2 linked regions of the Homo sapiens genome follow. The protein of the gene in region 1 purifies or fractionates together with the protein of each later gene. This does not show direct contact. Each region holds a gene or a part of one and is shown on either strand. Other genes may lie near its edges.

The links.
Region 2: the proteins of RBM10 (region 1) and KATNIP purify together in Homo sapiens (tandem affinity purification; one large-scale study listed by IntAct). This does not show direct contact.

The regions. Positions count from the first base shown.
Region 1 is NC_000023.11:47,151,681-47,155,333, forward strand, and holds part of RBM10 (RNA-binding protein 10), read left to right. Parts: intron 1-3,653. UniProt on the Homo sapiens protein: Binds to ssRNA containing the consensus sequence 5'-AGGUAA-3'. May be involved in post-transcriptional processing, most probably in mRNA splicing. Binds to RNA homopolymers, with a preference for poly(G) and poly(U) and little for poly(A).
Region 2 is NC_000016.10:27,738,633-27,742,285, forward strand, and holds part of KATNIP (katanin-interacting protein), read left to right. Parts: intron 1-1,408; coding exon 1,409-2,288; intron 2,289-3,653. UniProt on the Homo sapiens protein: May influence the stability of microtubules (MT), possibly through interaction with the MT-severing katanin complex.

The sequences.
Region 1 (3,653 bases):
GGGCTGACAGGCAGCCCCTTCTGTGTAGCCATCCTCAGCACATGGCAGTTGAGACAGTAGGAAGAAGGGAGAGGAATAAAAGGGAATGTGTCTAAAGTTTCTCCATTAAGTATGGTGCATGCAGTAAGTTTTTAGAATGTATCCTTTAATAAATCAAGAAAATTATCTAATCTTCGTTTGCTAAGATTGACCATAAATAAGTATTGAACTTCAAAATCCTGTGCTTTTTTTCTCCCTTTGTCCATTAATTTCATAAATTGTGGCCTGGCATGGTGGATCACAGCACCTTGGGAGGCCAAGGTGGTTGGATCGCTTGAGGCCAGGAGTTCAAGACCAGCCTGGCCAACATGGTGAAACCTCATTTCTACTAAAAATAAAAAAATCAGCCAGGCGTGGTGAAGCATGTCTGTAATCCCAGCTACTGGGGAGACTGAGACATGAGAATCGCTTGAACCTGGGAGGTGGAGGTTGCAATAAGCTGAGATCGTGCCACTGCACTCCATCCTGGGCAACAGAGTGAGACTCCATATCAAAAAAATAAATAAAAATTTTGTAAATTGCATTAAATGATATCCTTGGCATTCTTGAGCTATACCCCACTTGATCATGGTATGTATGTATATGTTTATGACTTCTTACTTTGAAAATATCTCAAATTTACAGAAAGGTTGCAAGAAAAAGTATAATGAATTCCCATATATCCTCTACTCAGAATTACTTGTTTTAAGTATTTTGCCACATTTGCTCTATCACTCTATATCTTTTTTTTTTTTTTTTTTTTTTTTTGAGACGGAATCACTCTGTCACCCAGGCTGGAGTGCAATGGCGTGATCTTGGCTCACTGCAACCTCCGCCTCCTGTGTTCAAGCAATTCTCCTGCCTCAGCCTTCCAAGTAGCTGGGATTACACGCGCCTGCCAGTACGCCTGGCTAATTTTTGTATTTTTATTAGAAACGAGGTTTCACCATGTTGGTCAGGTTGGTCTCAAACTCCTGACCTCAGGTGATCCACCTGCCTCAGCTTCCCAAAGTGCTGGAATTACAGGCGTGAGCTACCGCGCCTGGCCCACCCTATAGCTCTATATCTTTACATAGACACACACACACACACACACACACACACACACACACACACACGTTTTTTTTAATCGTTTGAGTTGGTGGCAGCCATGACTTTTCTTTTTGAGTCAGAGTTTCACTCTTGTTGCCCAGGCTGGAGTGCAATGGTGCAATCTCGGCCCACTGCAACCTCTTCCTCCTGCATTCAAGCGATTCTCCTGCCTCAGTCTCCCAAGTAGCTGGGATTACAGGCATGCGTCACCACACCCAGCTAATTTTGTATTTTTAGTAGAGACAGGATTTTTCCATGTTGATCAGGCTGGTTTCAAACTCCCGACCTCAGGTGATCCGCCCATCTCGGCCTCCCAAAGTGCTGGGATTACAGGCATGAGCCACCACATCCAGCCTGACATGACCTTTTAAGTCTGGCAGCATGTACGTCTTAAGAACAAAGGTGTTCTCTTCCATAACCACAATATACTTATCAATATCAGGAAATTAAACAATTATATAGTACTTTTATTCTATATAAAGCCCATATTCAGATGTTATCACTCTTCTCAATAATGTCCTTTATAATGGTTTTCCCCAATCCAGGATCCAGTCCAAGATCATGTATTGCATTGAGCTCCTTGTCTCCTTTAATCTGAAACAGTTATTCTATCTTTGTCTTTTATGACCTTGTCATTTTTTTTTTTCCTGAACCTATGGATTATATTGAAAGCATGTTTTAAAGTTAGTTGTTTTATAGAATGTTTCTCAGTTTGGATTTTTCTGATGCTTACTCATGAGTTTTTGGCAGAAATGTTATTTAAGTGATTTATGTATATTTTTAAAACCTTGTTAGATTTTATTAGCCATTGTATCATCTAGGATATCTACACCTGTATTTATCAGTGAGGTAGTCCAATATTTTTATTTTCAGTATTTATCTGGCATTGGAATCAAGGTAGCCTCATTACATGAATTGGGCAGCCTTTGTTATTCTCTCTTTATTGGAGAAACTTGTATAAGAATTATCTGTACCTCGAAAAACTTGGTAGGACTCACCTTTAAAAGCATCTGGAGGCTGGGCGCAGTGGGCTGAGGCAGTTGGATCACTTGAACCCAGGAATTCGAGACGATCCTGGGCAACATGGCGAAACTCTGTCTCTACAAAAAATACAAAAATTAGCTGGGCGTGGTGGCAGGTGCCTATAGTTCTAACTACTCAGGAGGCTGAGGCAGGAGGATTACCTGAGTCTGGGAGGTTGAGACTGTGGTAAGCCATGATCATGCCACTGCACTCCAGCCTCAGTGACAGAGTGACACCCTGTCTCAAAAAATAATAAAATAAAAGCATCTGGAGCTGGTTTTTGATTACCATTTCATCTCTTCTGCCAATTTTAGCATTTTATATTTTCTAGAAATATACTCATTTTGTGAAGATCCTCATATATGATGATTCAGTCCAGCATCCTAGAAATGCTTTATAAAAGGGATATGCCTTTGGAAGGTGTTTGTTCAGAGTGCTTTGGTGGCCAATTAAAAATATTCCTTTCTATCCAAATATGTTCCCTTCCTGAGTTTAGATAGCAAGAGTTCAATACCTGAATTTATTTGGTTTGGATATTGGATGTCAAGAGAGTTCAGGATAATTTCATCTGAAAATTTATAAATTTATTCATATCTGTTCAGTTCTTGATTTTTTTTCCTTTTTTTTTTGTTTGTTTGTTTGTTTGTTTTTGTTTGTGGAGATAGTCTCACTCTGTCTTCCAGGCTGGAGTTCAGTGGTGCGATCTTGGCTCACCGCAACCTCTGCTTTCCAGGCTCAGGGGATTCTTGTGCCTCAGCTTCCTGAGTAGCAAGGATTACAGGCCCGTGCCACCACACCCGGCTAATTTTTGTATTTTAGTAGAGACGGGGTTTCACCATGTTTGCCAGACTGGTCTCGAACTCCGTACCTCAGGTGATCCACTCGCTTCAGCCTCCGAAAGTGCTGGGATTACAGGTGTGAGCCACCATGATGGCCCAGTTCTTGAATTTTGATGACTACAGTTCAAATTGATTGTATCAAGAACCTTATAACTACTCATACCACTGACAGTGATTTCTTCTCTAGGCATTTACGGTAGGGAAACAATTTGGGGCCAGGTGTGGTGGCTCACGCCTGTAATCCCAGCACTTTGGGAGGCCGAGGCGGGTGAATCACGAGGTCAGGAGTTTGGGACCAGCCTGGCCAACATGATGAAACCCCATCTCTACTAAAAATACAAAAAATTAGCTGGGTGTGGTGGCAGGCACCTGTAATCCCAGCTACTCGGGAGGCTGAGGAAGGACAATCGCTTGAACCCAGGAGGTGGAAGTTGCAGTGAGCCAAGATCACGCCACTGCACTCCAGCCCGGAGGACAGTGCGAGACTCCCTCTCAAAAAAAAAAAAAAAAAAAAAAGAGTTTGGGTTCCAAGCTGAGTTCGTGGGGACAGGGACTTTATTTTGTTCACAGCAGTATCCCCATTACCTAGAACAGTACTTATCGTATAGCCAATGTTAGGTTAATATTTGTTGAATGAATGCATGAACAAATAATTGTTTAAAAAAATGGAAGTCAACCAAA
Region 2 (3,653 bases), on another chromosome or scaffold:
GGAGAGCTTTGGAATTTATCCCATCATCGGCATGGTTCTGCACCCCGTCGTGTGAAGAAATCATCCGGAGAACTTGTTCTGAGTCCAGAAGTTACCTACAGGCTGCCTTGAGGCAGTGGTCCTCACACGGCATCCTCCTGGCTCCCTTCCAACTGCAGCTGCCGTGAACATGGGACAGTCCCCGCATGTGGACAGTGCCCTGCCTCAGGTGCTCGTGGGGTGCTCTGCCGTGGGAGCACACTCAGCTCGTGCATGTGTTGGGGCATCAGTGCCCTGAGGGCAGCCTTCAACAAGCAGTGGATAAATGTCCCAGTCTTGGAGAGACATTTGCGACATGCATTTAAGCAGAAGACTCCCATGATCTGATTTCAGTTAAAAAAAAAAAAACTCACTGCTGCATAGAAAATGAAGTGTGAGTGCAGGGATTTGGAGGAGACAACGCAGAGTGGAAGCAGAGAGACCAATTAGGAGGCGGCAGTGGTGTCTCTGGTAGAGACCCTGGTGGCCTGGGCAAGGAAGGCAGCAGCACATTCCAGGTAAAGAGGTCAGACCCAGGAAGTGTTCTGGAGAGAGAGGCGAGGGACAGCTGGCGGATTGGATGGGCAAGTGAGAAAGAGAGGGATCAAGGGGGCCACGAGGTTTTTGGCCACTGCTTCAATGATGGAGCCATTTTTAAGATAGGTGAAGACTAGGGTTGGGGAAAGTGAGATCTTGGAGTGCCGCAGAGGGCCCCCGTGGGAAGGAGCACCAGTTGGCCACAGCAGTGACCAGCTCAAAAAAACTGGGTTTTTCCTTTTTCCTGCCCTATCTTGCTTTCCCCATTTCCTCTTGGAATCACCTGCCAAATACTCGACTTGCACCCGAGTCCTTGTCTCAGCCTCTGCTTTTACGGTCTCCCAATTATGATGCCCACGGAGGCCAGGAAAGCTGTTTTATAAGCACTCCAGGCTTTTCGACGCAGATGGTCTCAGGAACTGGACTTTAAAGAACACTGCTATAGGCTGTGAAAAAACATGAAGGATTTCACACAGGGGAATGACTGGACAGATTTGCTCTGGTAGGAAATGAACTCTGGTGGCAATGTGAAGTCCAAGTTAAAGTAGCAAGAGACAGGAAGCAGGGAGACCCATTAGTAGGCTATTACGAATGTCCCGACAGGAGGTAATGATGACGAAGGCAGCGATTGAGGCCGTCTCTTTGTGAAAGTCCTTTGATTTATAGAGTATGTAGCGGTTCCCACAGAAATGAGACCAAGCCTAGTTTCACACCCCCAGCACTGTGGTTTTCAAAAGCTTGCATTTCTAGCATTTCACATTTTCTTTTCTTTTTTTGGTATCTTCGACTTCCAAAATTTCATACATCAGTCTGATGCTATGCATCTTCACTTTGTTAAATCTTATGGTTTCAGGATCTTGACATTGGTGCCAAGAACGTGAAGCTTTACGTCAACAGAAACCTCATCTTCAATGGCAAGTTAGACAAAGGAGATAGGGAGGCCCCAGCTGACCACAGCATCCTGGTTGACCAGAAGAACGAGAAGAGCGAGCAACTAGAGGAGGCCATGAACGCTCACTCGGAAGAAAGCAAAGGCACCCATGAGATGGCTGGTGCCAGCGGGGACAAGGAGCTTGGTCTCGGTTGCTCACCGCCAGCTGAAACATTAGCGGATGCAAAGCTTTCTTCACAAGGAAATGTGTCTGGCAAAAGAAAGAATTCTACTAATTGCAGGAAAGACAGTTTGTCCCAGTTAGAGGAATATTTGAGACTGTCGGCAGTCCCCACTTCGATGGGTGACATGCCCAGTGCTCCTGCCACTTCCCCACCTGTGAAGTGCCCTCCTGTCCATGAGGAGCCCTCTCTCATCCAACAACTGGAAAACCTCATGGGCAGAAAAATCTGTGAGCCACCCGGGAAAACCCCATCCTGGTTACAACCTTCTCCCACCGGCAAGGACAGGAAGCAGGGAGGCAGGAAGCCAAAACCCCTCTGGCTTAGTCCCGAGAAGCCCCTGGCCTGGAAGGGCAGGCTCCCATCAGACGATGTCATCGGTGAGGGTCCTGGAGAGACCGAGGCCAGGGATAAAGGCCTACGGCATGAGCCAGGGTGGGGGACCAGCCGGAGTGTCAACACCAAGGAGAGACCCCAGAGGGCAACCACCAAAGTCCACAGTGATGACTCAGACATCTTTAACCAGCCCCCCAACAGAGAGCGCCCTGCTAGTGGGAGGAGGGGCTCAAGGAAGGATGCTGGCAGCAGTAGTCATGGGGACGACCAGCCAGCCAGCAGAGGTAAGCTCCAAAGAGCAGCCCGACTTGGGCATCATCATCCCAGCCCCTCTAATTGGCATGAAGCCAGTTAGCTCCTGGACCTCAGTTTCCTTATCTGCACAACAAGATGGTTGTTCTCAACTAAGGGTCACAAAATCACTGTCTCAGGGGCCAAAGAGATGCATACATGAGTGAAATGGGCAAGACACATTTTGCATGGTAAATTCATAGATGTATTTGTCATTGCCACCAAGGTATGTCCCTTTGCCCATTTTTCTTGCAACACATGGCTTTTCCAAGCCATTTTCCAAAAGACTTTGTTCTCCTGCCTTTCATAGAGACATCGGTCTCTAGTCACTTCACTTTATCCTTAACTGTACTGTTAGAAAAATAGCTGGGTACAGTGGCCAGGCCTGTAATCCCAGCACTTTGGGAGGCTTAGGTAGGAGGATCGCTTGAGCCAAGGAGGTCGAGGCTACGGTGAGCCATGATTGCGCCACTGCACTCCAGCCTGGGTGACACAGCGAGACTCTGTCTCAAAGAAAAAAAAGAAAAAATAATAACACAAGTGTGATGATGCATAGCAATTGACACTTGCCTGAGTGTTGGAAGTGGCACAGGGAATAGTGAGGACTTTGGCAATTTGGAGACCATAAGCCCACCCACAGGGCGGCTGCCACTCCACTCAGGTTTCTAATAAGCATTTAGGAGTGCAAGGCCAGGCCGGGCGCAATGGCTCACACCTGTAATCCCAGCACTTTGGGAGGCCGAGGCGGGCAGATAACCTGAGGCCAGGAGTTCGAGACCAGCCTGGCCAACATGGTAAAACCCTGACTCTACTAAAAATACAAAAATTAGCCAGGCATGTGGTGCGTTCCTGTAATCCCAGCTACTTGGGAGGCTGAGGCAGGAGGATCACTTGAACCTAGGAGGTGGAGGCTACAGTGATCCGAAATTGTGCCACTGCACTCCAGCCTGGGCAAGAGAGTGAGACTCCGTCTCAAAAAAAAATAATGAATGCAAGGCCACTGTACCAGACCTCCTCTTTACTTTTTTCAAGAGAAACCAGAAATGTTTCTTATTTTTTGACTTTGGCAACTGATTGAGATTATTTTTAAACTACTGTATATGTCAAAAAAAAAAAAAAAAGGCACATCTGCTGGCAGGACTCACCCTGAGAGCTTTGTGAACTTTGCAGTAGATGATTAGATGGTCTTCAAGGGCATTCCTGATTATGAAAGGAGAGCCCATCAAGGCAGGGAGTCTCAATATTTGCACTCAGACTTGGCTCCTGGAGAGTACGGATAGCAGCTAGGAGTCAAACCATTGAATCCAAACTCAGCCGCTTACAGACCTGGGACCTCTAGCCAGGCACACAACTCTCTG